Regions from separate parts of the Homo sapiens genome. Here all the other regions are linked to region 7. The links come from fine-mapping of genetic effects on gene expression. A gene starts in region 7. Each other region holds a variant in brackets. All regions are shown on one strand. Distances are from middle to middle.

Region 1 (4,266 bases), 130 kb before region 7:
GGGCTCAAGCAATCCTTCCACGTCGGCCTCCCAAAGTGCTGGGATTGTAGGTGTGAGCCACCACACCTGGCCTGTTTGTTTTTTTAATCCCATGATTTACCTTTCTGTTTCCCCTATACCTGAGACTTGGTAACCATCTCTTCACATACTTACAGTTAATTGTTCACCATTCATCACACCTGGATGTCCTGCATTTGACTGAACATGCCCAGTTCTTTTCACAATTTCTCATAGGTCTAATTTCACAAACCTTTCATCAGTTGCTGTTCTCTGAACAGTCTCCAAGTTTTTTCTCTTTATATAGTATGACATGTAAAATTAAATATAGTTTGTTCCAACTGAAGCCTGCCCAGTGCCAAATAAAGCAAAAATAATTGCTTCCCTCCTTTTTCATGCATATGCCTTAATACAATTCTATGAAGTATTTGTCTCTTATTTCAATTCATCCAACTTAACACCAACCATAATTGTTGGCTCTCCCTTGGCTGTTTCATCTACAGCTGTCTTTGCCAGTATTTCCGCATGTTTGCTGCAATTCAGTAGCATATTAAAAGTTACATGTTAAATTTCTAAGAGGAATTCTTTCACACATTTTTTATTTAAAAATTGCCCCATGAACAATGTGGATGTAGTGTTTGGGGCCTCAAGAACTAAGGCTTGAACAATTCCAAGTACTTTGGTGGTGGGAACTGGAAAGACAGATTTAGATGGAGAGGTACCAGAAGAGATTGCTGAAAACCGGAGAAAGATGGCTGCCTTTGGTTTTCTCTTTGTTTTTGTTTTTTGAGACAGAGTTTCGCTCTTGTGGCCCAGGCTAGAGTGCAGTGGTGCGATCTCGGCTCACTGCAACTTCCACCTCCTGGGTTCAAGCGATTCTCCTGCCTCAGCCTCCAGAGTATCTGGGACTACCGGCGCGTGCCACCATGCACAGCTAACTATGTATTTTTAGTAGAGACAGGGTTTCACCATGTTGGCCAGGCTGGGAGATCAAACTCCCGACCTCAGGTGATCCACCTGCCTCAGTCTCCCAGAGTGGTGGGATTACAGGTGTGAGCCACGGCGCCGGGCCAACTGCCTTTGTTTTCTGCTATCACAGTTCTTTGGTTGTAAGCAAGGGAAACCAATTTCAGCTAATGTAAGCAAAGGGGAATTTGTCAGAACTATATCAGAGGATTTTCAGCTGGCTGGAGAATCATGCTTAGAAACTGGCAAACACCAACAATGCTCCCAAAAGCAGCTATCTCAGGCATAGTTTATAGAAGAAGAGAGCTGGGTGTGGTGGTTCACAACTACAACTCAGTGCTTTGGGAGGCTGGAGGTGGGAGGATTGCTTGAGGCCAAGGGTTCAACATCATCCTGGGCAACATAGTGAAACCCTGTCTCTACAAAAAATAAGTTTAAAAAATAAGGCAGGTATAGTGGCACACTCCTCAGGAGACAGAGAGGAGGATTGCTTGAGCCCAGGAGTTCAAGGCTGCAGTGAGTTATGATTGCACCACTGCATTCCAGCCTGGGCATCAGTGTGAGACCATGTCTCTTTAAAAAAAAAAAAAAAAAAAAAAGCATTAGTGTCCATCTTTGGGGCCTCTTCCTTGGTTCTTCCCCAGTTCCAAATTCTAAACAAACCTGGACACTGGATGTGAGGCACTGTGGGGGATTCTAAGAGTAAAAATACACAACCAGTGCCCTTCGGGATGTTACAATCTAGGAAGGAGAGAAAGATACACAAATAGTGAAATATAAACCCAAGTGTTAAATATGCTCTAAGAAAAGTAAAATGTGGCCAGGCACACAGGCTCACACCTGTAATCCCAGCACCTTGGGAGACTGAAGCGGGAGGATCACTTGAGCCTAGGAGTTTGAGACCAGCCTGGAAAACATGGTGAGACCCCGTCTCTAGTAAAAAAAAAAAAAAAAAAAATTAATTAA[C/T]TTAAAAAAAAAATAAAGTAAGCCCGGCTTGGTGGCATGAACCTGTAGTCCCAACTACTTGGGAGGCTGAGGCGGGAGAATTGCTTGAACCCGGAAGGCGGAAGTTGCAGTGAGCCGCTGGAGGTTGCAGTGAGCCAAGATCGTGCCACTGCACTCCAACCTGGTGACAGAACAAGACTCCGTCTCAAAAAAAAAAAAAAAAAAAAAAAGTAAAATGTGCTAAAAGCCAAGTTCCCAATTGTCTCCTGGTTACGGAGAAATAGATGTTCCCAATAACTCTCACGGTAACTATGGTTGGCATAAGGTGCATTTAGACTAGCTTTAACAATTATTTTCTCATTGAACTTCTTCACTCAGATACTGCAGTATTTCCAGACAGGTAAGTACCCTAACCTATGTAAAAGTCCCCTTAGCGCTTGTTTTACCTTCACCCTAGGAAATCTCACATTCAGAGGATACCTCATCAACATCATCTGCTCAGATGTCCTCTTGCTCAGCACTTGCAACATTAGTGAAATAACACATTGGTATGTCACTTTTTTGTTTCTTTTTTTTTTTTTTTTTTTTTTTTGAGACGGGGTTTCGCTCTTGTTGCCCAGGCTGTAGGGCAATGGTGCAATCTCACTGCAACCTCTGCCTCCTGGGTTCAAGCAGCCTCCCAGGTAGCTGGGATTACAGGCGTGTGCCACCATGCCCAGCTAATTTTGTATTTCTTTACTAGAGATGGGGTTTCACCATGTTGGTCAGGCTGGTCTTGAACTCCTGACCTCAAGTGATCCACCTGCCTTGGCCTCCCAAAGTGCCAGAATTACAGGCATCAGCCACTGTGGCTGGCACCCCACCTCCCATTTTATTTTTTCTTTAGCAGAGACGAGGTCTTGCTATGTTGCTCAGGCTGGTCTTAAACTCCTGAGTTCTCCCACCTCAGCCTCCAAAAGTGCTGGGATTACAGGCGTCAGCTACCATGCCTATCCACATTTTGTTTTTTTGTTTTGGTTTGGTTTGGGTATGTCACTTTTTGATATTAGGTGATCCAAAATAATTTATCTTGGTATGCAAGATGTTCAAGGAACAAACATCTACAATAAGGTACCAAAGTTTTGAATTATTTATCTGTGTATATGTATGTATACCCACACAGACCATTATGAGGCATTTTAGAAATCACTTTCTCACATGCATTCCAATATAATTTCCTGAGAGAGAAAGGAGTTCCATGCAGGGAGTTATACATAAACCACAGCCTACTTTTATGGCCATTTTGAATTACTTTTGTATTTCAAATTCACTTTTTAAAACTTCACCCATGGGGCGGGAGGATTGCTTGAGCCCAGGAGTTCGGGACAGCAGTGAGGTATGATCATGCCACTGCACTCCAGCATGGGCAACAAAGCAAGACCCCCATCTCTAAAAAAATCAATAAATAAAGGAAACTTCACCCATACCCACAGAAGAGAAAATTGTGAATGAGTGCATCAACATCTACAGTACACAAAAACAGTAGTCTCTGAACATTGTTAGTAGGGTCCTAACAGTTATGATAGCCAAGTGAAAACTCTCAAAGGAAAGTGAAAATATTCCTTATATCAATAACATGGAGGGAATCTACCAATTTTATGTTTTTAACAATAAATTTTATGCCTTTTCAAATAATGTGTACTTGTTTTATTGGTGTTGTGAGTAAAGGCTGGGGGAGAAATCATGATATTTAAAAATTAGATATGCTACATTTTGGCAATTCTTACATAACTGATTTCACTATTGTTGAATTCTTAACATTAAGTGAACATCTTTTGTTTTTCTTTTTGTTTTTTGTTTTGTTTGACAGGGTCTCACTCTGTCATCCTGGTTGAAGTGCATTGGTGCGAACACAGCTCACTGCAGCCACAGCTTTCTGGGCTCAAGTGATCCTCCCCCCCAACTTCAGCTTCCCAAGTAGCTGGGACTGCAGGTGTACGCCTGCCCAGCTAATTTTTTATGTTTTATAGAGGCAGTGTCTCGCTTGTTGCCTAGGCGGATCTTGAACTCCTGGGCTTAAGTGATCCTCCCACCTTAGCCTCTCATAGAGTTGGGATTATAGGTGTGAGCCACTGGACCCAAGGCTTTTCTTTTTTTGAAACAGTCTCACTCTGTTGCCCAGGCTGGAGTGCAGTGGCATTATCAGAGCTCACTGCAGCCAAGACTTCCCAGGTTCAAGCATCCTCCCGCCTGAGCCTCCCTAGTAGCTGGAACTACAAGCACTTACCATTACACCAGAATAATTTTTTTAATTTTTAATTTTTGTAGAGATGGGGTCTCACTATGTTGCCCAGGGTAGTCTCGAACTCATGGGCTCAA
Region 2 (4,266 bases), 76 kb after region 7:
TCACCTCGCTTTGTCATCACACTTTCATAACTCTGCAGATACTGCCCCTCTTTCTTGGACTGACTTTCCTCACTTCATGTGGGAAACTCTTATTCATCCTTTACTCAGCGACCATCTCCTTTCTTGATTTGTACCCACTCCTCCGGTTTGGTGTTAGCCCATTATGCCTGTTGCGTATTCTGATGCATACACCATTGCATACTTCGTCTTACTCTAAATCTTAACTTCTTCACTGCTCTGTAATGCAATTGTCTGTCTTTCTCTAGACTGAGACCTTCTAGAGGAAAGATCTGCGTCTTCTTTATCTTTTTCCCTCAGCACTTATTATAATGCCTGGCACGCAGTAGGCATTCTGTAAATGTATGCTAAAATAATCAATGCATAAATAGTCCAGAAAAGTTCAACATGGACTAACTTTAAAATGAGATTAATTATGACAATTGTTAGTTCAAATTTTTTTAATTAAAAAATTCTTTACTATTAAATCAAGCCAATTTAAGCTTTCTGGGATGATATACAGAGACACACTACACAGCACAATGGTATAGCAGAAAAGAAATTATTTACAAGGATTGTTTAGAGTAAAATCAAATCTCTATTTTAACAAATATATGAGATAAACTATATCTTTATGATTATTTTTTGCTGTAAATGTATTCATACCAGGACAATTGTCACATTTAAAATTCTCTAAATAATTTTGGCACAGGTGAAATCTTCTAACGTTGTTAAGTCCCTAAGCTCTTTTTCTTTCTTTTCTTTTTTTTTGGAGACAGAGTTTTTGCTCTTGTTGCCCAGGCTGGAGTGCAATGGTGCAATCCCGGCTCACCACAACCTCCACCTCCTGGGTTCAAGCGATTCTCCTGCCTCAGCCTCCTGAGTAGCTGGGATTACAGGCATGCGCCTCCACGCCCGGCTAATTTTGTATTTTTAGTTGAGACGGGGTTTCTCCATGTTGGTCAGGCTGGTCTTGAACTCCCAAACTCAGGTGATCTGCCCACCTCAGCCTCCCAAAGTGGTAGGATTACAGGCGTGAGCCACTGCACCTGGCGTTTTCTTTTCTTTTTTTAGACAGGGTCTCTGTCACCCAGGCTGGAGTGCCATGGCATGATTACTGCTCACTGGGGGCTCAACCTGCTGGTCTGAAGCAATCCTCCCATCTCAGCCTCCTGAGTAGCTGGGACTACAGGCACACATCACCATGACCAGTTAATTTTTTACAAATTTTTTTGTAGACACAGGGTTTCCCTGTGTTGCCCAGGCTGGCAACTAGAACTCCTGGGCTCAAGCAATCCTCCTGCCTGAGCCTTCCAAAGTTCTGGGATTACCAGGGTGAGACACTGCATCCAGCCCCTGAGCTCTTTCGACAGGCTGATTGTTTTGTGTCAGCCTCTTCTCCAGCCGCCTCAGCCCATTCTCTTCAGAATGACTTGCTACCGGCCCTGGCTTCACAGCTACTTTTATTATACTTCCCCCTCACTTTAACTCTAGATGAAAGTTTAATGCTCCAACCTTTCTAGCCAACTGTGCTCTGCAGAAACCAGGCAGCTTTTCTGACACAAAGACTTAGAGTCCTTGCTCCAAAGAGGGCCCTGTACAATTTTCCTGGTGCTTATTGACAAATAAGAGGAACCAGATAGTGTCAATTTTGCGCATTCTTCTTCTTATTACTAAAATTGCCTATAGTGGCCAGTGTTTTAAAGTCTCCAAAGTATGTCTCAGATGCTCATCTAAACACTGGATGGCAAAGAGGTCACCACCCGTGTCAGGCTTATTGGCAAACAAATGGTGCTTGCACAGTGTCCAGTTCAAGGTGCCAGCTCCGAAAAGGCACACTGAGCGCACATGGGCCCTACTGCAGGTGGGTAAAGAGTGCTTCAAAGTGCTGCCACCTGACAAACCTAGAAGCTGCATGCATGTCAGAAGAGTCATACTTACGGCTTAAGGAGAGTGAGCTGGGGACTTCGGGAATCCTTTGAACAGTGGCCTAGAGATACTTGCTGTATGTGTCTTGGGCCTACTCCATAAACTTTTAAATTTTTTTCATTCTCTAGCATATACCCCA[C/T]GTCCTCCCTACTGACCACAAAATAGGCACTGCCTGAAAAAAGAGATGTTTCGAGTGGAGGACACATTTTGACAGTCCCCATGTTTGTCAGCTTTCCACTAATAACTGCATGCCCTCTTTTCCACTTTTCTTCCTTATTGACTAGCATCGTCTCAGTTTCCAGGTTGTTTCCACCCATTAATGACTTGAGCTTCCTGAAAATTTCCAGGTTGGTTTGAATAGCAAAATCCATACCATAAAGATTCATCAAGTACCCTAGTCTGTACTCATTGTGTAGAGGTCCTTCATGCAGTTGAGGTCAGCCTGAACCACTCCACAGGAATGCAAAAACCACACCCTCAGCCCCTCAAGGCTTCTGTCAGGCAGAAGCAGCACAGTAGGGCACCTTCTTGCACCTCCAGGGCCAGACTTTCACTCCAGCACTTTCTCTCCATGCAGAGTAAAGCACGGGTACGGTAATGGGTGCCAGATGTCACCTGGAATCAGAACACTAAATGATCCAGACTTTCCTTAATTCTAAATGTGCTGTTCTTTATTTTAATATACCTTTGCACTTCTGATACATGCAAACTGACAACCTTCAAGGCCATGAAGGAGGAACATCTGTTGGTGCTTGAAGCCTAGAAGACTGCCCTTAACAACAACAACAGAAGTCCCTGATTGTTGTTTGAAATGCTGAGGAAGTTGCTGTGGAGGAGACTTTTTTTCTTTTTTCTTTCTTTTTTTTTTTTTTGAGACGAAGTCTCACTCTGTCGTCCAGGCTGGAGTGCAGCGGCGCGATCTTGGCTCACTGCAACCTCTGCCTCTCTGGTTCAAGCGCCACGCTTGGCTAATTTTTGTGTTTTTAGTAGAGACGGGGTTTCACTATGTTGACCATGCTGGTCTCGAACTTCTGACCTCAGGTGATCCACTTGCCTCAGCCTCCCCAAATGTTGGGATGACAGGTGTGAGCCACCGTGCTCGGCCAGGATAGATTTTATTTTCTAAGCTCCGGAGCTTTTGATATGCCTTTGGAGAAGTTCACACCAATTCCAAACAGGTTAAAAATGTTATACAAAGTTAGTGCATGTAATAAGTTCTAAATAAATTTGAATGTTATATAAGGTTCAATATATGTAATATTGTATTGAACAATACAATTAGAAGTAGATGATTTTTATTTATAGGAAATCATTTTACTGCATTGATTATTGTAGATTTATCTAGGAGAATGTTGGCAAAGGTCACATTAGTAACTGAAATCTAAAAGACTCCAAAGCCTAAATTAAGATAATGACTTACGTTTTCTTATTGCAACTTTTTGATCAAACCGGTTGCAATGCTTCTCTTCCTGTTCTTCCTGCCCTCTGGTGGAGGTGCTAACCATCAGGCCAGGAGATAAGCAAGAGCCATAAAAGAGAATAGTGAAAAAGATCAAGGTAAGCCTAAATGGCAAGCCACTCCTGAATAATTGAAGAGCCACTGTTTACCTAGAACAAACCTCTGTTCCTTGTTTTTTCCAACGTTAAATAGGGACAACAATATTTACCATAATTCCCAATATTTACTATTATTCCCAAGCTGGTACCTTTCCATAGGTACTGCTTTCTACCTTTGGTCTTGCAGACCTGGCTAATTCCCACACAAAGGAAACCATTCTCCTACTGTGGCCTCTTCTATGCCTGGAAAAGACTGCAGGTTGGTACAGTATAAAAAGCAGTGGACTCCATCGTGTTGGGTGTTTAGGTCGCCATTCCATCACTTGACTCTTCAGAGTCCTTTCGATCCTATTCCTTAGATCAACAATGTACTTTTATTTTGTGACAAATCCTTCCTAAGCTGGAACTTGGCATAGGAAGCTTTGTTTCATTGAAGGAGATAATGAATTTGAAAGAATACTACAATTTTATTGGGTTTGTATATGATTTAATGCATTAATGACATTTATTTTATTTATGTTGTTAATTGCTAAATAATAGCAATCTTAAATATTTCTGAAACGCCTTTTATCTTGATCCTGAAAGATAGTTGCTATAGCATTAAAATACACTTAGTTAAGAAAAAAAAAAAAAGCAGTGGACCAGGAAGTGAGGGTTCTGTTTCCAGCTCTGGCTCTTGCTAGTGGCTTGGATGCCCTTGGGTAAGTCTCTTAACCTCCCTGAGACTGGGTTTCTTCATCTGTAAGTTAAGAATTATGATATTAATGGGTCTATTGTGAGGTT
Region 3 (4,266 bases), 28 kb after region 7:
CATGTGTCTTTTTTTTTTTTTTTTTGAGATAGGAAATGTGTCTTTATGGTAGAATAATTTATATTCCTTTGGATATATACCCAATAATGAGATTACTGGGTTGAATGGTAGTTCTGTTTTAAGTTCTTTGAGAAATCTCCAAACTAATTTCCATAGTGGCAGAACTAATTTACATTTCCACCAGCAGTGTATAAGCATTCTCTTTTCTTAACAACTTCACCAACATGTTATTTTTTCACTTTTTAAAAATAGCCATTTTGACTGGTGCGAGATGGTATCTCACCCTGGTTTTGATTTTGATTTGCATTTCTCTATTAACTGGTGATACTGAGTGTTTTTCATATGCTTGTTGGCCACATGTGTATATTCTTTTGAGAAGTCTCTGTTCATGTCCTTTGACCATTTTTTTTTTTAATTTATTTTTTTATTGATAATTCTTGGGTGTTTCTCACAGAGGGGGATTTGGCAGGGTCATGGGACAGTAGTGGAGGGAAGGTCAGCAGATAAACAAGTGAACAAAGGTCTCTGGTTTTCCTAGGCAGAGGACCCTGCGGCCTTCCGCAGTGTTTGTGTCCCTGATTACTTGAGATCAGGGATTGGTGATGACTCTTAACGAGCATGCTGCCTTCAAGCATCTGTTTAACAAAGCACATCTTGCACCGCCCTTAATCCATTTAACCCTGAGTGGACACAGCACATGTTTCAGAGAGCACAGGGTTGGGGGTAAGGTCACAGATCAACAGGATCCCAAGGCAGAAGAATTTTTCTTAGTGCAGAACAAAATGAAAAGTCTCCCATGTCTACTTCTTTCTACACAGACACGGCAACCATCCGATTTCTCAATCTTTTCCCCACCTTTCCCGCCTTTCTATTCCACAAAGCCGCCATTGTCATCCTGGCCCGTTCTCAATGAGCTGTTGGGCACACCTCCCAGACGGGGTGGTGGCCGGGCAGAGGGGCTCCTCACTTCCCAGTAGGGGCGGCCGGGCAGAGGCGCCCCTCGCCTCCCGGACGGGGCGGCCGGCCGGGCAGAGGGCTGACCCCCCCACCTCCCTCCCGGACGGGGCGGCTGGCCGGGCAGAGGGGCTCCTCACTTCCCAGTAGGGGCGGCCGGGCAGAGGCGCCCCTCACCTCCCAGACGGGGCGGCTGGCTGGGCGGAGGGCTGACCCCCCCACCTCCCTCCCGGACAGGGCGGCTGGCCGGGGGGGGGGCTGACCCCCCCACCTCCCTCCCAGACGGGGCGGCTGGCCGGGCAGAGGGGCTCCTCACTTCCCAGTAGGGGCGGCCGGGCAGAGGCGCCCCTCACCTCCCAGACGGGGCGGCTGGCCAGGCGGAGGGCTGACCCCCCCACCTCCCTCCCAGACGGGGCGGCTGGCCAGGCGGGGGGCTGACCCCCCCACCTCCCTCCCGGACGGGGCGGCTGGCCGGGTGGGGGGGCTGACCCCCCATCTCCCTCCTGGACGGGGTGGCTGGCCGGGCTGAGGGGCTCCTCACTTCCCAGTAGGGGTGGGCGGGCAGAGGCGCCCCTCACCTCCCGGACGGGGCGGCTGGCCGGGCAGGGGGCTGACCCCCCCACCTCCCTCCCGGACGGCACGGCTGGCCAGGCGGGGGGCTGACCCCCCCACCTCCCTCCCGGATGGCACGGCTGGCCGGGCGGGGGCTGACCCCCCACCTCCCTCCCGGATGGGGCAGCTGGCCGGGCGGGGGGCTGACCCCCCCCACCTCCCTCCCGGACAGGGTGGCTGCCGGGCGGAGAGGCTCCTCACCTCCCAGACGGGGCGGCTGCCGGGCAGAGGGGCTCCTCACTTTTCAGACGGGGTGGTTGCCAGGCAGAGGGTCTCCTCACTTCTCAGACGGGGCGGCCGGGCAGAGACGCTCCTCACCTCCCAGACGGGGTCTCGGCCGGGCAGAGGCGCTCCTCACATCCCAGATGGGGCGGCGGGGCAGAGGCGCTCCCCACATCTCAGACGATGGGCGGCCGGGCAGAGACGCTCCTCACTTCCTAGATGTGATGGCGGCTGGGAAGAGGCGCTCCTCACTTCCTAGATGGGATGGCGGCCGGGCGGAGACGCTCCTCACTTTCCAGACTGGGCAGCCAGGCAGAGGGGCTCCTCACATCCCAGACGATGGGCGGCCAGGCAGAGACACTCCTCACTTCCCAGACGGGGTGGCGGCCGGGCAGAGGCTGCAATCTCGGCACTCTGGGAGGCCAAGGCAGGCGGCTGGGAGGTGTAGGTTGTAGTGAGCCGAGACCACGCCACTGCACTCCAGCCTGGGCACCATTGAGCACTGAGTGAACGAGACTCCCTCTGCAATCCCGGCACCTCGGGAGGCCAAGGCGGGCGGATCACTCGCGGTTAGGGGCTGGAGACCGGCCCGGCCAACACAGCGAAACCCCGTCTCCACCAAAACCAGTCAGGCGTGGCGGCGCGTGCCTGCAATC[A/G]CAGGCACTCGGCAGGATCTTCTATCTGTCCAAACTGGGACCGAGTCCTCGGCCTCGGAGGCTCCACGCTCCCTCTCTCACAGCCCGCACCTCGGCGGTCTCTCGGAGGAGGGAGGAACCCGAGGTACCTGGTAGTCGTAGCTGAGGAACTTACAGGCTTGTTGACCATCTCACCATGGAAACTCGACCATTTTTTAATGGGGTTGTTTTTTTGTTTTGTTTTTGTTTTTGTTTTGAGACGGAGTCTCACTCTGTCGCCCAGGCTGGAGTGCAGTGGCGTGATCTCAGCTCATTGCAAGCTCCGCCTCCCAGGCTCACGCCATTCTCCTGCCTCAGCCTCCTGAGTAGCTGGGACTACAGGTGCCCGCCACCACGCCTGGCTAATTTTTTGTATTTTTAGTAGAGACGGGGTTTCACCAATGTTAGCCAGGATGGTCTTGATCTCCTGACCTCGTGATCCGCCTGCCTCAGCCTCCCAAAGTGCTGGGATTACAGGCGTGAGCCACTGTGCCTGGCCAGGGTTGATATTTTGTTTTTTTGTTTGAGATGGAGTCTTGCTCTTGTCACCCAGGCTGGAGTGCAGTGGTGTGATCTCTGCTCACTGCAACCTCTGCCTCCTGGGTTCAAGTGATTCTCCTGCCTCAGCCTCACGAGTAGCTGGGATTACAGGCACCTGCCACCATGCCTGGCTGAGTTTTCGATCTTTTGTAGAGACGGGGTTTCACCATGTTGGCCAGGCTAGTCTCAAACTTCTGACCTTAGGTAATTCGCCCATCTTGGCCTTTTCATTCTGTTTTGTAGAATGGAGCCTAACCCCGCCCCCCCCCCCAAATAAAAATAAAACAAATTTTCAATTACAATGAGCAATGCACAAAGATATTGAGGTACATAAGGAAGTCTGGCCCTGTAAGCAAGATTCAAAGGAAACAGCAGATATTAGAAACAGATCCACAGACTATAAAACAACTATGTATGTCTGTAATTAAAAAAATAAAAAGACAACTTGAAAATATCTTCAGGTAACAGAAAACTATCAAGGGATATAGCATATTGAAAACAGACATTTTGACCAAATTGAGTAAATTTAACTAGTTTGTTTTTTCTCATGTTTAAACTTATTAATTAAATTAATTATTTTAGTCTTTCTAGTGTCATGTTTTAAAACCTAAATCAATGTACTATGGCCAAAAGTGTTAATCTCAACAGCCGTGGAGAATATAAGTGTCATTACTGTTATTATCATCATATATTAGAAAAGTCACAGTATCTCAGCAAATAGTCATCATCAAGTCATAGTATTTTACTTACAATGATACAGATTCATGATGTCCTTCCATTTGTACAAAGGTAATTAGTTCTGACTCTTAAGTCATTTATCTGACAATCTGTCCAGCTTAAAGATATGAAACCAACCTTAAACCCACTGAAAAAAGAACTTACCACTAGATTCCTGTATCAGTCAGGAATAGCTTCAGCTGTGAGTAAAAAAAAAAAAAAAAAAAAAAACAAAAAACAATGGCTTAGTCTAGAGCTGAGGTGGCCTGGTACTCTTGTAGCTTCCATTCCCAAGGTCACCTCTTGTTTCAGCTGGGCTACTCCAGCCATCACAACCATATTCCAGTCTGTCTGAAGGAAGAAAAGAATAATCGGGGGCAAAGGACCCATCAGCTCTCTTATAAAGACGGTTTCCATGAACTGCCATACTTTGCTTACCTATAAGAAAGAGAAAAGCATGGCCAGGTACAGTGGCTCACCATGCTTATCCCAGCACTTTGGGAAGCCAAGGTGACTGGATCACTTGAACCCAGAAGTTCAAGGCCAG
Region 4 (4,266 bases), 40 kb after region 7:
GCTGAATACAGAGGTTTTAAGGTTGTTTGCTAATATCCCTAAATATAGGCTGATGAAAACCACCAGAGTAAAACTGGTAAAAATAATACTGACACAAACGGCAGCAGCATGATGTGATCCTGGCATGCAGTTCTCTGCTGATCTGACTGACTAGGATATTTATAGGAATCACAAATGCAGATGACTACAGGGGCCAGGTAAGTAATTTAGTGAGTAAAGCCTGCTGCCTATGAGATGATGGTGTACATGTGCGTGTGTATGAGTGTGTGTATGCGGATTGTGACCACTGGAAAACCCCGGCCCTAACTAAATGGAGCAGCAGCCATGTTTTAGCTCCAGCAGTTGTTGCCGTGTGGGGATACCATTACAATGTTGCCAGATCTTCTATATCTGACACCTCAATTTTTCAGTGTTGGCTAAATTATTTTTAAATACTGTGTGGGTCAAACAAAATAATTCCAAGGGCTAAATTAATCCGTGTCTGTGACTGCTTATCTAAAGGAATGAATTGATATCATATCTTTCAGGTATTCCTCACCAGCATACTTTTCTCAGCACATGTATGTGTTTTAATGATTTTCTAAGTCAGGGGTATGATTGACTTTCTTTTGCAAGAATAGAGTTGCTTAAGTAACATGGGTTCCTGAATAGAAAGCCAAAAAGAAAATGAAGATAATTTATTTATTTATTTTTATTTTTATTTATTTATTTATTTTTTTGGAGACGGAGTCTCACTCTGTCGCCCAGGCTGGAGTGCAGTGGGGCGATCTCGGCTCACTGCAAGCTCCGCCTCCCGGGTTCACGCCATTCTCCTGCCTCTGCCTCCGGAGTAGCTGAGACTACAGGCGCCCGCCACCGCGCCCGGCTAATTTTTTGTATTTTTAGTAGAGACGGGGTTTCACCATGTTAGCTAGGATGGTCTCTGATCTTCTGTCTGACCTCGTGATCCGCCTGCCTCGGCCTCCCAAAGTGCTGGGATTACAGGCGTGAGCCACTGCGCCTGGCCCATTTATTTTCAATCACTTGATCATTCAATTTTTATGAAATGATTAAATGATCAGCAGAGTATTAATTTTAGAACTGGCCTTCTTTCATGGTGCTCTTGGAACTGGCCCAGAAGAGGCTTAGCTTATTTAAGAGAGGCCAAAAATGATCTGGTGTCAGCACTCAGAGGGCAATTTCTTCTCATTTTTGTTCTTGCATTTATACTTCCCACCACTCGTATTAATGCTTGATATTCTCTTATTCATATGTAGCCAGTTCAGAGTTCACAAATGATGTGATCAGAAGATTTGACTTCTAATTTTATTAGAACCAAGAGTATCATGGAAATGTCTACGTGTGAGTGCACAGGTGCTCTAGTTCTTACACAGTGGCTTCTGTACCTAAAGCCCTTCTGACGCATGCATGTCACTAAGGCTGAGTCGAGGAGAATGCTCCAATAAAGTGATCACTGGGGTGTTCTCAAGGACAACAAAAATTTACATAGCTCTTGGACAGACAAGGATCATATTTCAAGATGGCTTCAAATATTCAGTTAATCAAAATCAACCTCACAAGACTACATCCAGATAAAACCTTCAGAGACCACACCCAGAAATATTTCAGATTTATTTTTTTCTACTATAAATCCAGGGAAGAATTAAGATTTTTGAAAATTTTGGTGTAAAATAAAATGATTTATAGCAATAACTAAAGAAATAGAGTATTTGGAATACGTGGCATCCTGTTAACGGTGGGCATATTTCCATTC[G/A]GAGTTGTTTGACATGTTTGACGTTAACAACCATTATACTGCCACTACAGTATGGCAGTAGATTACTAAATAAACAGACATTCCCAGCATTTACCTCTTCTGTTAGAGTATTGTTTATCAAGAGTTTTCTTCAAATTTAAGCTTTAACATTATGTACCCAGACGTAATTTTAGCTTCTATTATAAGAATTGCTAAATTAAGAAAATTTTAATTTAGATTAAGTTTCACAATGTATAATTATTTATCTGTATTCATTCTGAAAAGATTTGAAGTAGTTTATAATAAAATATAGAGTCATTTTTTTTAAAAAAACACAAGAGAAAAAGAACAACATTCAGTTTAGGAATAAGGTGGTAGGACTGGAAGGTGTAGGGATAGTGAATTACTAACCTGAAAACTTAAGAGTGAATGGCTGTTAAAATTTAGCAGAAAACCTCGGGAGGCCGAGGTGGGCAGATCACCTGAGGTCAGGGGTTCGAGACCAGCCTGGCCAACGTGGCGAAACCCTGTCTCTACTAAAAATACAAAAATTAGCTGGGCATGGTGGTGGGTGCCTGTAATCCCAGCTACTTGGGAGGCTGAGGCAGGGAGAATTGCTTGAACCCGGGAGGCGGAGGTTGCAGTGAGCCGAGACCGTGCCATTGCACTCCAGCCTGGGTGACAGAGCAAGATTCCATCTCAAAAAAAAAAAAAAAGAAAGAAAGAAATATTGCCTAGCATTCAACTCTAACAAGAATTTACCACATAGATCTTGTTAAGGACGCTGAACAAACACAATTATCATCAAATTGCAATTTTATAAAAAATACCAAAGCATTCCTCATGTGGTCATTTCCACATAGGCTTTTGGCAAAAGTTTAAGAACATAATGTTAAATAGATTTCTATGAAAGCTGAAGAAATGCAGATTGACTTTGTCATTTTGGGGTAATGTGAACAGTAACAGACTTAGTAATTTCTGTCCCTCTTGGAGTATCCCATGTAGTAAACAAAATATATATATATATATATATATATATATAGAATACAACACATTTTTAAGACTCACAAACCTTCTGAGATCTCTTATTTTCATTTATTCAGGCAGTACTTACTGATGTTATGACATATATGCCTGTTCTGTACATGCCCTAGAATTTTCATGAACATATCTCATCTTTAGATGGTCCTTAAGTATTTATATATAACGTGCATATCCACCTGCCCTAAGGAAGGGTTATACTTACTATTAATTTACTCTCTGAGATGTATACACATTAAATTCTATATTCAACTAAAATTTTCATAAAATCTATAGATAATTTTTACCTACAGCGAGGTGAAGACATGCACTTTAAAAGTAAAAAGCTTCAACAAAACTACATGAGTCATGAATGCCACCACCATCCATCCAGTCATCCAATTCAGTCATGCCTAATTCTTCCATCTCCTTTAGACTTCCCTACTCCCAGCAAATCAGTGATTAGATTATCTTTCTTTTATTTCCTCGCTTCCTGTATCATTCAGGATCCAGAGAGTAGAATTATGAGGAGAGATACATACATACATAAATATAATATGTATTATATATATATATACACACATAAATATTCCCTCTCCCTTCCCATCTTCTATTCCTGTCCCCCCCACACTCCTCTCTCCCTCTTCTATTTATTAAGAAAGGGATTTATTAAAGGGATCTGACCTTCTGTAATTGTGGGAGCTGGTTGAACATTCTCTATAGGCTGTTTGCTGTCTTTGCCTCAGATGCTAAAGATTGAAGTCCACTGCCTGCTACCTCCACTGCCACTCCCAGCTCCAAATCATCACCACCTCTTGATCATACCATTTTTTGCTTGGTCTTCTTGTTCCTGTCTTTGCTTCAGTACTATCTATTCTCCACAGAGCATCCAGTGATCCTTTTATAAGTCAGATCACTTCATTTCTCTACTTGAACCCTCTAATGCTTCCTCTTTCACTCACATTGAAAATCAAAGTATGTTCATCTAAATGATCCAGGAGGCTCTACACAGTACTCTTAATCATTATGATAGGCTGCTGTATTAGTCTGTTTTCATGCTGCTGATAAAGACATACCCAAGACTGGGCAACTTACAAAATAAAGAGGTTTATTGGACTTACAGTTCCACATGGCTTTGGATGCCTCACAATCATGGCGGAAGGCAAGGAGGAGCAAGTCATATCTTATGTGGATGGTGGCAGGCAAAGAGAGAGCTTATGCAGTCAAACTCCCATTTTTAAAGCCGTTAGATCTCATGAGACTTATTTGCTATCACAAGAACAGCATGGGAAAGACTTGCCCCCATTGATTCAATTACCTCCCAAAAGGTTCCTCACACGACACATTGGAATTGTGGGAGTTGCAATTCAAGATGAGATTTGGGTGGGGACACATCATATCATTCTGCCCCTGGCCCCTCCGAAATCTCATGTCCTCACATTTCAAAACCAATCATGTCCTCCCAACAGTCCTCCAAAGTCTTAGCTCATTTCAGTATTACCTCAAAAGTCCAC
Region 5 (4,266 bases), 73 kb before region 7:
AAACAAAATAAAACAAAACAAAAACACATTTGATTCTACATTATAAAATATTTGGCTAGATTCAGAGCATGTCATAATAGGATTTAATTAAGCTAAAGGCATTGTAGGAGGATTTCCTTGCACAATAATTCCTATGTTAATAAAGGAATAAGAACGATGTCACATAAAACTTAAAAACGTGAAATTGTCACTTGGCTAATAAAAGAAATGCATATTTCCTAAAACTCATGGACCGATATTAGATTATCCTAACAAACTGAGATCAGCATTTGGTAATAAATCTGTCATTTGGAAAACCAAGAAAATTCAAACAAATATTCTGGGAACTGACAAAACCATTTAAAGGGAGAAAAGGAAAATGAAGGTTATAAATTTTGCAACTTATTTTCTCATACTTGGTTTAACAATGTAATAGTTATCATAGACTCAATGACAAAGATGTAAACAAATTCTACAAAAAAAAAAAAAAAATCTCAGCACCTTCAGGGACAAGGTGGTTATATATAGAATTGAAGCAAGACAATTGGTTAGAAAACAAAGGCAGAAATGAGAATACTAAGAGAATACAGTGTTTTTGTCAGGTCTAGAAGTTGAATATCCAGTAAGATGTTACAAGGCTAAAATAACACTGAATTATAACACAACAAAAGGGAGTTAACTGTGGCTCTTTAATTCTGCTTAACTGAAAAGCATATACACAAGGCCAGGAGTGTTGGCTCATGCCTGTAATCCCAGCACATTGCACACTGGGAGGCCAAGGCGGGCAGACCACCTGAGGTCAGGAGTTCGAGACCAGCCTGGTCAACATGGCGAAACTCCGTCTCTACTAAAAATACAAAAACTAGCTGGGCACAGTGGCGTGCGCCTGTAATCCCAGCTACTCAGGAGGCTGAGGCAGGAAAATCACTTGAACTTGGGAGGTAGAGGTTGCAGTGAGCTGAGACTGTGCCATTGCACTCCAGCCTGGGCAACAAGAGTGAAACTCTGTCTCAAAAAAAAGAAAAGAAAAGAAAAGCATATACACAAATAACTAAAACACTTTATACAAAATGAAATTCAAGTAGAATCAATGCAGAATTACTTGGGTGGGGGTGGAAGGGAAGAGTAAAGAGAACAATGCAATTATTTTTTAAAAAAGTAAAACATTAACGAATTATATGATTTTTGACATGAGATCTTTCCTAACTTTATTTCATTTAGAACATAATTTACCTTATATCGGAGTCATTAAATAGCCATCATAATACAGATACGAATAAGAAGGAAATGAGTTTAAGTAAAAATGTTAAGTGTCCTGGATATTCTTCTCATGTTAGACAAAACACAAGACAACAAAAAAAAGGCTAAATATTACATCTTAACAAAGAGTAAAAGTTTCCTAAAATTAATAGACCAAGAACACCTACCACTCCATCAGCAATTTTCTGAGCTCCATGAATTTCATATAGTTGTAGCTGTTTTTCAAACAGTTGGGCAATAGCTCTATGAACAAGTTCATATTGCTCCTATGAAGGAGAAAAATGATTAAAAAACAAAATGAAAACAACATTTTAAAAAAGAAGAAAGCATTTATAAAATAGCAGTTTATAAAGGGAAACAAACAACTATACCTTTGTTTGTACTGCAGAATGCCTTTGTGTTCTCATTTCTTGTATTAAATTAAATACATTAAATTCCTCTGGTATTTTCTAAAACAGAAAATTTAATACATCAACTTTGTGTATCTATTCAGAAAATAGTAAAATCTTCTTCAGCTTTTCACATAAAACTTAAATACCTGCTGGTTTACTGCAAACATTTATTGAACACCACTTAATGCATCTCAGACACTGTGCTTGGCACTGTGGAAACAAAACTGTTCTTGACCCTCAGCATTCAAGATGGGGAGACAGTTATGTCCAGCCAAAGTATGACTGCAGTATACAGGGAATAAAGAGGCTATGGCTAACTGTTGAGTGTGTGCAGCTACAACATAGTTGGATATCAAAAGAAGGTTATCCCATAAAAAGTGAAGGAAATATACATAAGCACAGCAGATTCAATGTATAATCTATGTGGGGAATTGAGAAGTTTGATGTAAACAAAGCCTAAGACTAAAAGAAGGAGAAGGTACTCAAAGGAGGAGAGAAGATAAGGATATTTAGGATCAGACTGTGAACATAATAAAGAGACTGAATTTATTCTATTGGCCAGTATCTCCTGGATTGGCTATATAAGGACCAGCTAAAAGACCTAGGTAAAAATATAGATCCTTTGGCTCCAAGTTGGGGAACTAATTATGAAACGACCTAGACAATTCTTTT[G/A]TGTATATGGAATTGCGACTACTGCAATAGGCAATGTTGACATGAGAAGATCTGATATTCACACAATTTTTGTATCAAGGAAGAGGACAGTCTGAAAGAGTGAGAAACTGGCGGAGGTTTACAGAAGCAGAAATATCATAACTGTTATCAACAAGAATATTTTGGAGTGATTAAGATGGAAGGGTTAAAAATGATTTCCAGGTTTGCTGCTTGGAAGTCCTTATATACATCATAAGATTTTTGGGTTTTTTTTTTGTTGTTTTTTTTTTGAGACGGAGTCTCGCTCTGTCGCCCAGGCTGGAGTACGGTGGCGTGATATCCGCTCACTGCAAGCTCCGCCTCCCGGGTTCACGCCATTCTCCTGCCTCAGCCTCCGGAGTAGCTGGGACTACAGGCCCCCGCCACTACGCCTGGCGATTTTTTTTATATTTTTAGTAGAGACAGGGTTTCACCGTGTTAGCCAGGGTGGTCTCAATCTGCTGACCTCGTGATCCGCCCGCCTCGGCTTCCCGAAGTGCTGGGATTACAGGCGTGAGCCACCGCGCCCAGCCAAGATTTTTACATGAAGACTTAACAACTAGGCCGGGTGCAGTGGCTCATGTCTGTAATCCCAGCACTTTGAGAGGCCAAGGCAGGCGGATCACCTGAGGTCAGGAGTTTGAGACCAGCCCGAAACACGGTGAAACCCCATCTCTACTAAAAATACAAAAATTAGCCAGGCATGGTGCCGCGTGCATGTAATCCCAGCTACTCGGGAGACTAAGGCAGGAGAATCGCTTGAACCTGAGAGTCAGAGGTTGCAGTGAGCCGAGATTACACCACTGCCCTCCAGCCTAGGCAACAGAGTGAGACTCCATCTCAAAAAAAAAAAAAAAAGAGAGAGAGAGAACTATGTTCAAAATACACAACTTTTATTTTATTTTATTTTTTGAGACGGAGTCTTGCTCTGTCACCCAGTTTGCAGTGCAATGGCACAATCTCGGCTCACTGCAACCTCTGCCTTCCAGGTTCAAGCAATTCTCCTGCCTCAGCCTGACAAGTAACTGGGATTACAGGCGCCGGCCACCACGCCTGGCTAATTTTTGTATTTTTAGTAGAAATGGGGTTTCACCATGTTGGCCAGGTTGGTCTCAAACTCCTGACCTCAGGTGATCCGCCCACCTCAGCCTTCAAAAGTGCTGGAATTATGGCATAAGCCATGGCACCTATCCAAAATACACAACTTTTAAAATGACCAAATGTTTGTTTTGTTTGCTAGCATTCATTTATGTGTCCCTTCTCATTCCAATTTTAATCTTTGACTTTTATGTTAAAATGTGATCGAATTCCAGTTAAATTTTGTTCACTTAAGCATTTTCATTTGAGAATTAGATGATTATAGTTTTTGAGGAAAAAAATATTTAACCCCAGAGGGCTTTTTAAGGAACTGTTTAACATGTAAATATTTCCTTGCAACAATAAAAAATGGAGAGATGGCAGGGAAAAAAGAGAAATAAGGGGAAGAAGGAAGAAAAAGAAAAAATAAACATTTTATTAATTCTACTCTGTACAAGACAAAGATGAACAATTCATGGAAACTATAAAGCTATGAAGGATTAAAGGCGCCTCTCTAGAAATGAACACATTATGGAACCAGCAAAAGAATCAAATGTATACATAATGAAGAGACTTGTTTTTCAAATCTATAATGAAGGCTGTATCTTATTTATCTCTGTATCATCCACAGTATCAAACACTATTTCTTGGAAAAAGCAGTAGTAGGAACAACAATCACAACAGCAACAGTAATCAACACTAACAATAAACTGAGTACTTACAATTTACCACATAGTTCTGAAGAACTTCACAAAAGTTATTTAATTCTTATGCATTACTACTACTATGACCCCTATTTTCTGATAAAGAAATAGAGGCACTATGGGATTAGTATTTTGACCAAGATCCCACAGCTAGTAAATGAGAA
Region 6 (4,266 bases), 54 kb after region 7:
ATTCCTGTGATGCAATGTTAGCTCAACATATGCAAATCAATAAATGTGATTCACCACATAAACAGAATTGAAAACAAAAACCGTATAATCATCTCATTAGACTTGGAAAAAGCTTTTGATAAAATCTAACATCGTTTCATGATTAAAAAACCCTCAACAGGCTAGAGGCATCAAAGGAACATACATTAAAGTAATGAGCCATCTCTGAGAAACCCACAGCCAACGTCATGCTAAACAGGCAAAAACTGGAAGCATTCCCCTTGAGAACAAGACAAGGATACCCACTCTCACCGAGAATCCCCACTCTCACCACTCCTATTCAACATAGTACTGGAAATACTAGCCAGAGCAGTCAGGCAAAAGAAAGAAAGAAAGACATTCAGATAGGAAAAGAAAAAGTCAAACTATCTCTCTTTGCAGACGATATGATTCTATACCTAGAAAACTCTAAAGACTCTGCTAAAAGACTCCTGGAACTGGAAAATGGCTTTAGTAAAGTTTCAGGATACAAGATTAAATGTACAAAAATCAGTAGCATTTCTACACAACAATTATGTTAAAAATTAGAGCCAACTCAAGAATACAATCCCATTTACAATATCCACAAAAGAATAAAATACCTGGGAATACGACCAAGGAGATGAAAGATCTCTACAAGGAGAACTACAGAACACTTTTGTAAGAAATCACAGGGCCAGGAGCGATGGCTCACGCCTGTAATCCCAGCACTTTGGGAGGCCAAGGCGGGTGGATCAGCTGAGGTCAGGAGTTTGAAACCATCCTGGCCAACACAGTGAAACCCCGTCTCTACTAAAAAAAATACAAAAAATTAGCCAGACGTGGTGGCATGCGCCTGTAGTCCGAGCTACTCGGGAGGCTGAGGTAGGAGAATAGCTTGAACCGCGGAAGTGGAGGTTGCAGTGAGCCAAGATTGCGCCACTACATCCAGCCTGGGCGACAGAGTGACACTCAGTCAAAAAGAAAAAAAAGGTTGGGTGCAGTGGCTCACGCCTGTAATCCCAGCACTTTGGGAGGCTGAGATGGGTGGATCAAGAGGTCAGGAGATTGAGACCATCCTGGCTAACACGGTGAAACCCCGTCTCTACTAAAAATTAAAAAAAAAATTAGCCGGGCGTGGTGGCGGGCGCCTGTAGTCCCAGCTACTCGGGAGGCTGAGGCAGGAGAATGGCGTGAAACCGGGAGGCGGAGCTTGCCGTGAGCCGAGATCGCGCCACTGCGCTAACAGACTGGGCGACAGAGCGAGACTCCGTCTCAAAAAAAAAAAAAAAAGTAATAATAAAGTGTTTAGCAGATTATATTCATGAAGCCAATAATGTCTATTATTACTATTAGATACTATAGTCCAAATTATCTTTGATTCTATAAATATTTGCATAGCTTCATCTGAAAAGCTTTCTGTTTTATCACAGTTCATGCTAACAGTTCTGAAATGCAGAGTAGAGCAGAAACTCAGTTTTTAAAATTTGTTCTTATAGGTCTGATTATATGTCCTTTGAAGATTTTGGTTGCTTTTCCCGGAATCTCCAATTAATCTGTACCGTATCTACAAGCATTTATTTTTCTTATATTTCTGTAAAATGTGTACATTTTTAAATGTGAAAAGTCAAAGCAGAAACATTGCTATAACTAAGCCCTAACCAATACTGAGAACCAACGAAGGATAACCTCATAATTGGTAAATTTTATATTATTTCTACGTAACACTATTAGACTCATTTTAAAATGTGCTACTTTCCTGACTCTTTTCTTTTTCTTTTTTTCTTTTTTTTTTTTTTTTTTTTTGAGATGGAGTTTCACTGTCTCCCAGGCTGGAGTGCAGTGGCATGATCTCGGCTCACTCTGAGATTCTGGTTCCAGCGGTTCTCCTGCCTCAGCCTCCCGAGTAGCTGGGACTACGGACGCGAGCCACCACGCCCAGCTAATTTTTGTATTTTTAGTAGAGAA[G/A]GGGTTTCACTGGCAGGGCATGGTGGCTCACGCCTGTAATTCCGGCACTTTGGGAGGCCAAGGCAGGCAGATCACCTGAGGTCAGGAGTTCGAGACTAGCCTGGCCAACATGGTGAAACCCCGTCTTTACTAAAAATACAAAAAAAAAAAAAAATCAGCTGGGCGTGGTGGTGGGTGCCTGTAATCCCAGCTACTTGGGAGGCATAGGCAGGAGAATCGCTTGAACTCAGGAGGCAGAAGTTGCAGTAAGCTGAGACCACGCCATTGCATTCCAGCCTGGGCGACAAGAATGAAACTCTGTCTCAAAAAAATAAAAAAATTAGCTGGGTGTGATGGCACCTGCATGTAGTTCCAGCTACTTGGGAGGCTGAGGTGGAAGGATTGCTGGAGCCTGGGAGGTTGAGGTTGCAGTGAGCTGTGATCATGCCACTGCACTCCAGCCTGTGCAACAGAGCAAGAGACCCTGTCTCAAAAAGACAAAAAAGGATAAAAGGAGGTCTTGAATGTTTCACTTTTACCCTCTTTATTAGGAATGTGAAATTTTTTACATGTAATAATTAAAATATGCTATTCTTTCAAACAACATACAAATGGTACTGTTACTTGTTGCATCATTTCTATGTTTTCAACTTTGTGTGCATGCATTCATTTTAAGTTATGATTTTGGATTCTGTTTTTATTTTTAAAAAACCAATAAATTTTCTTTATGAAACTATCAAAAAGCAAGTGCTAATTTATTTAATATATTGTCCAGTTGAGAAATGGTCACAGGATCCAAGAGGCCATGTGTCATGAAATCAGATAAATCATTCCTATGTTGTGGAGGCTGAACTGCTTTTGTAAGTACCTGGGAGGTCTGGCCGGATTTCCGGGTTGAATTATAACAATCTTTTATGTCATGGGATGCCTTGCCCAGGTTGTGCAATGTAACCATGAGAACCAAGCAAACCTGTTGCTCAACTAATTCAATTCTGTTTCTTCTATATCCAAATCAGGTTATTTCCATACAAACACGGTTTAATAGAATATTTACCACCTGACAAGGATTGTAAAAATTTCTGTGGACTTAGTGATAAAAAAAAAAAAAAAAAACCTAGATTGAAAATATGTTGTGAACCAGCTAGGGCTCAGAGGACTTTATGGTCTTGATAAAATTCAGGTTCAGCCAGGAACAGGTGACATCAGATGCAACTGTTCTTTACATGTGGCTCTCTCTATCTCCTTTCTACCCACCTGGGCTACCCACAAACTTCTTCCTCATCCTAAGACTATGCTGCAGGTGTGGTAGGTGCGGCACATACCACTGATACAATGCCGGAAGAGACACTTTTACTTCCTATTAAGGCCAAAGGCCAGGTTGGTCATTTGATTAGGAGTGAATGGGGTTGTTCTTGATCTAGGGCAGAAGGTGGGAGTGAAAGAGGAGTATATGAATGGTCCTGACAAGACAGCATATTAAATGTTATTTTGAACTCTATCAAATTTCTATAGTTTTAACACAATGACTGATAGTCATCTATTTCCTCTGAAGTAGATGATTTATTTATTTATTTTTTTGAGTTAGAGTTTTGCTCTTTGTTGCCCAGGCTGGAGTGCAGTGGTGCAATCTCGGCTCACTGCAACCTCCGCCTCTGCGGTTCAAGAGATTCTCCTGTCTCAGCCTCCCAAGCAGCTGGGATTACAGATGCCCGCTACCATGCTTGGCTACTTTCTGTATTTTTAGTAGAGACGGGGTTTCACCATGTTGACCAGGCTGGTCTTGAACTCCTGACCTCAGGTGATCCACCCGCCTCAGCCTCCCAAAGCGCTGGGATTACAGGCGTGAGCCACCACGCTCGGCCAGATGATTTATTTTTATGCTTTGTGTTCTGCCTTCTAAATCTATTTTGAGAAAAATGTAAATCAACTAAGTTTGAACTCAATTTCAATTTGTACTTAATTCAATAACTTTCCTTTTTTTTTTTTTTTTTTTGAGATGGAGTTTTGCTTTTGTCACCCAGGCTGGAGTGCAATGGCATGATCTTGGCTCACTACAACCTGCAACTCCCGGGTTCAAGCGATTCTCCTGTCTCAGCCTCCCAAGTAGTTGGGATTACAGGTGCCCACCACCATGCCTGGCTAATTTTTGTGTTTTTAGTAGAGACGGGGTTAAGCTATGTTGTCGAGCCTGGTCTCAAACTCCTGACCTCGTGATCCGCCTGCCTCGGCTTCCCAAAGTGCTGGGATTACAGGTGTGAGCCATCGCGCCTGGCCTTAATTCACTAACTTTTCAAACATTAATCCCTTAAAGAAAAATAGAAT
Region 7 (4,266 bases):
GAAAATGCCGTTTTCCTTAACCCTTTCAGATCAAAAAGTAATTTTTCAAAAATACATAGGCTAAATATCAAGAGCAAATGTTTAAATATAAGCAATATTTTTATTTTTAATAAGGAATAAGTTAGATTATTTAACTTATATTTTCAATCTTCAAAAGATACTGAGAAAACTTTACTTCCGTCCTCTATTATTGGTCTGGGGAGGCGGGAATCACAAAGCTCAACGATGCTAGTATAATACTGTGTATGGTCAAGGGCCTATTTTATAAGCTGTTAAAAATTTAACGCTAAAGCTTTACTAGACCAGTCTCTTTAAAACGTGAAAAAGTATTCACTACTAAGTCATATCACCTCCACCATAAAAACTACTGTACTTTTTAAACAAAAAATAAAAACTAGCCAATGTTTGCTGCCCATTCATTTTACAGGCATTAACTGTGTATCCTTCTCATAATCAGATTTCAGAATTAAGTGATTATTCTTCGAGGTGTACCTTACCCAAGATAAAAATTTTCCCCAGCTTATTTCCCATTCCCAACCCCCGCCAAGACTAAGGAGCAACCACTTCCCAAAGTCCCACTTCCTTTTTCATTCCCCAGACCTACAGGGTTTCCAACGCCCCAGTCTTGCGCAATATCCGTAGGAGCAGCAGCCGCAACCACCGCCTCCTAAGCCGGGAAACAACCCTAGAGGGAACATTGTCCAGCAGAAAAATAAAAAGGGCGGGGGTTGGGGGGGTGGGTAACGTAGGAAGTCGACTTCTGGTCTCACGCCTTCGGATCTGACCCCCTCACAGTGTGCTAAAGCAATAGTGTATCTAGAGCAATTTCATGAACAAGACTTTTAACCTTCACCTCCTCTCAAGACTGCCTGCACAAGCAGAGGGCGGAAAGTAGGGGGTGGCGGAGGCGGGGGGGCGCTGGGAAGGTTATCTCCCAGTTCAGGGCTTCGGCCCGTAGCGTCGCCTCCGCCCCACCAGGACTATTGTTCCCAAGTTCCCCACCCCCACCCCGGATAGGAAGTGATAGTCACATCCCCTCCGCCTTCGGCAATATCCCCTGGGGAGTCCGAAGTCGGCTGGCTTCCTTCAGGATAATTCCCCCACCCACACTTATCCCCTGAACCTATAGTCACACGGACCCCAAGACCACCTCAAACCTGGGCCTCAGGAGAGGAGAAGCGGGACGCGGGTAAATGGAAATTAGGTAAACCCATGAGATTCCTTATGGGCAATCCTTTCCCAAGCGTTGGAGATCATGACTGCGACCCCAGAAACGGCCTAAGTCCTACCCTGCCCGCTTTGAGACCAGCTAGAGCAAAGGGATCCCAGGAGTTAGTGCCAACCTCAATACCCCCGTTCCTCTGTCAGCCACGATCTGCACTCCTCCCGGTCACAGCCAGATACCTTGCCTCGACCCTCCTGGGAGGAGCGAACTGCGCGGGGAGGTGTGGAAACGCGAGCCCCCCCCCCCGGCCTGCACCTCACTTGCCTACGGCTCCCGGCCCGGTAAACAATAGGTGGTCGCGAGCCACGGTGCAGGCTGCGGGCTCGGCCGCGCGGCCGCTCCCTTCGCGTCCCGGGAACCCGCGCGGGGGTCGCGAACATGGGAGAAGAAAGGAGGCCACGGGGGGAGGCGCTCTCGCCTCCCGCTGGCCTCCGAGACCACCCGGCTCACCCGGCTGGTGCGCGCCCCCTCCGCCCCTCTCCTCACAGAGGTACACAAAGCACTGGCGGCCCGGCCGGGAGAGGCGGCGATGGGCTCCGGCGCCGGCAAGAAAACGCGACAGCGAGGGGAGAGACTCACCATGAAGTCCCGGGCGAAGTTGTCCTCCCCATTGTGGTCAGGACTCTTCATGGCCTGGACCCTCTGGATGAATTTCCTCAGGATCTCCACTTGCTCCATCCTCCCGCGTCCCCCCGGCTGCGGTCGCTGGCCCCCCCGCCGCCCGCCCGCCCGGCACAGAGCCCGCTCCGTCTTCCCCAGCTCGTTCCCCCAGCACGTCCCTCCCTCCCGACCCCGCCAAGCCCCGCGGCTCCCTCCTCCTCCCCACCGCCCTAGGCGGCGGCTGCGGCGGCACCGGCTGGGCTCCCGACACCACAACTTCCAGGAGCAGCCGCCGCTCTCCCACAGTACCAGGCGAGCCGCTGCGCTAGCGCCAACCCCAACCCCCAGCTTGCTCCATCCTCCTTCCCCGCCCTCCTCCTCCGTCGGAGACGCCGCCGCCGCCGCCGCCGCCGCCGCCGCCTCAGGAACACAGCTAGCTCTCCGCTCGCCCTGCCCCCCCTTCCCGGTTCCTCCTCCCCCCCACCCCCCGCCAGCAGCCGCAGCCGCAGCCGCAGCCGCCTCTCCCCACGGGCGCGTCCCCGCCGCCACCCAGATGCGCGGCCTCGCGCTGCGGCTCCGCCCCAAGCGCTGCGCCCGCAGATGCATCCCCGCCCGCCTCCCGGCCACGCCCCCAAGCCCGCCCCGCCGGCCCCAGCCCCGCTTGGAGTGGCTGGAAGGCACTTCAGCGGGCGGCCTGGAGACCTGACTCCATTTCCGGGGCGTGGCCCCGCCCGGGGTGCTCAGAGGTCGGAGTATCGCTGGGAGGAGAGTTGGTTCATTTGGAGGAGGGAATGCGACTCTGAGCGGGCCAAGCCCTAGTGGGTCAGAGTAGGATTCTGATGGAATTTGCGGTCTCACCGCCTACTAGGGAGGAAAAGCAGTTTTCAGGAGTCCCGCACCGCCGCCAGCCGTGGGCTGGGACTACAAGTCACGGTCTGTGGAGTCCAGGAGTGGGGGCGGGCGGGAGGCAGGCTGGGAGCTGTAGTAGTGTCACCGCCACGTTCGCAGCAGGTAGATGCTCATCTTGCTAACGGATTGGTGAGAGTGGACAGCAATTAGGCTTTGGCACCTTGGAGCGTGGCTCCAGCTAAGGGAAGCGAAACGCTTCCTGGGTGAGAGGACTTTTATTCTTTGCTCATCCTCTTAAACCTGGCGAGTGAGCGCCTGAGGTTCGGAGTGCCTTCTTCACAGACGACGCGAATGTGGGGTCTTCGTGTTTGCCGAACTGAAGGGAATTTGCCTTCCTGCCTTTAGGTTCGCAGCAGTTCATAACTGAATAAGAGACTTTCCTCCATAGAATGGACTTTATAAATCTATTAATTTTTTTTTTTTTTTTTTTTTAGAGCTAAGGTCTTGCTCTATCTCCCATGCCAAAGTGCAGTGCTATGATCACGGCTCGCTGCAGCCTTGAACTCCTGGGCTCAAGGCATCCTCCTGCCTCACTACGTCACCAAGCCCAGCTAATACATTTTAAAAATTTATTATTTATTTATTTATTTATTTTTGGTAGAGAAGGGGGTCTCACCAGGTTGCCCAGGCTGATCTCGAATTCCTGTGCACTAGGGATCCTCAGCTTCCGAAAGTGTTGGGATTTTAGGCGTGAGCCACCGCGCCTAGCCTATAAATCTTTATTCATCTTTGTAAACTTCTATCAGAGAATATATTCTGGTCTAACTCATCATTTTACAAATAAAGCGACTTCCTGACATCCCCCAGCGTATTCTTAGCAGAGCCGTAACTAGAAGTTATTTTACTTTCACAACAGTGGCCTCTCACAATGTGACAGAACTGAAGGATTTGATCCATGAACTGACTTTCGTCATTTATACCCACAAACCTTTTTTTACAGAGCAGATTGGTCAGCGAATTTGGTTATAATAGGAAATATCAGTGGTAGAATACTTTCTCAGATGAAAGTTAGGAGCACTATGGAATTTAGTGAAAAACTCATTGAAGAAAATAGGTGTAGGCCGGGCGCGGTGGCTCACGCCTGTAATCCCAGCACTTTGGGAGGCCGAGATGGGAGGATCACCTGAACCCGGGAGGCGGAGGTTGCAGTGAGCTGTGATCACACCATTGCACCCCAACCTGGGCGACGGGAGTGAGGCCCTGTCTCAAAAAAAAAAAAAAGAAAAGAAAATAGGTGTAACAGGATATAGTTTATTTACTTCTTCAAAAAAAGGAAAATATTTCTGTTAAAATAATCCAACTAATACATCCACTCCAGAAATATGCACTTCAGACCAGGTGCAGTGGCTCACACCTGTAATCCTAGCACTTCGGGAGGCCGAGTTGGGTGGATCACTTGAGGTCAGGAGTTCGAGACCAACCTGGCCGATATGGTGAAACCCTGTCTCTGCTAAAAATACAAAGCCGGGTGTGGTGGTGCACGCCTGTAGTCCCAGGTACTCCAGAGGCTGAGGCAGAAGAATCGCCTGAAC

The links. PIP is the estimated chance that this variant, and not a neighbour inherited with it, causes the effect. A credible set is the group of variants that fine-mapping cannot tell apart.
Region 1: its variant is the best candidate, but not a certain one, in a credible set for the expression of PTPN12 in monocytes (TOPMed, PIP 0.54).
Region 2: its variant is the best candidate, but not a certain one, in a credible set for the expression of PTPN12 in whole blood (TOPMed, PIP 0.58).
Region 3: its variant is the best candidate, but not a certain one, in a credible set for the expression of PTPN12 in T cells (TOPMed, PIP 0.76).
Region 4: its variant is the best candidate, but not a certain one, in a credible set for the expression of PTPN12 in whole blood (TOPMed, PIP 0.69).
Region 5: its variant is the best candidate, but not a certain one, in a credible set for the expression of PTPN12 in whole blood (TOPMed, PIP 0.58).
Region 6: its variant is the best candidate, but not a certain one, in a credible set for the expression of PTPN12 in caudate (GTEx, PIP 0.67).

What each region holds. Positions count from the first base shown.
Region 1 is chr7:77,668,835-77,673,100 of GRCh38, reverse strand. All of the region lies in intron 1 of APTR (Alu-mediated CDKN1A/p21 transcriptional regulator), which reads left to right. Among named protein-coding and RNA genes, the nearest start is that of APTR, 25 kb to the left of the region's middle. The variant C/T (reference allele first, on the strand shown) is at 1,930.
Region 2 is chr7:77,459,566-77,463,831 of GRCh38, reverse strand. It overlaps the pseudogene GCNT1P5. Among named protein-coding and RNA genes, the nearest start is that of GSAP, 45 kb to the right of the region's middle. RefSeq lists a silencer at 1-23. The variant C/T (reference allele first, on the strand shown) is at 2,066.
Region 3 is chr7:77,506,736-77,511,001 of GRCh38, reverse strand. No RefSeq gene overlaps it. Among named protein-coding and RNA genes, the nearest start is that of PTPN12, 28 kb to the left of the region's middle. RefSeq lists an enhancer at 1,341-2,316. The variant A/G (reference allele first, on the strand shown) is at 2,445.
Region 4 is chr7:77,494,813-77,499,078 of GRCh38, reverse strand. No RefSeq gene overlaps it. Among named protein-coding and RNA genes, the nearest start is that of PTPN12, 40 kb to the left of the region's middle. The variant G/A (reference allele first, on the strand shown) is at 1,754.
Region 5 is chr7:77,608,187-77,612,452 of GRCh38, reverse strand. It overlaps PTPN12 (protein tyrosine phosphatase non-receptor type 12), which reads right to left. Exons shown (of 18, transcript NM_002835.4): 10 at 1,611-1,688; 11 at 1,407-1,505. Among named protein-coding and RNA genes, the nearest start is that of PTPN12, 73 kb to the right of the region's middle. The variant G/A (reference allele first, on the strand shown) is at 2,304.
Region 6 is chr7:77,480,750-77,485,015 of GRCh38, reverse strand. No RefSeq gene overlaps it. Among named protein-coding and RNA genes, the nearest start is that of PTPN12, 54 kb to the left of the region's middle. The variant G/A (reference allele first, on the strand shown) is at 1,966.
Region 7 is chr7:77,535,184-77,539,449 of GRCh38, reverse strand. PTPN12 (protein tyrosine phosphatase non-receptor type 12) reads right to left here and starts at 2,155. Exons shown (of 18, transcript NM_002835.4): 1 at 1,805-2,155. The coding sequence starts at 1,903. LOC124901681 (a long non-coding RNA gene) reads left to right here and starts at 2,501. Exons shown (of 3, transcript XR_007060395.1): 1 at 2,501-3,079; 2 at 3,169-4,266. RefSeq lists silencers at 1,616-1,665, 1,806-2,015, 2,266-2,565 and enhancers at 2,636-2,855, 3,026-3,075.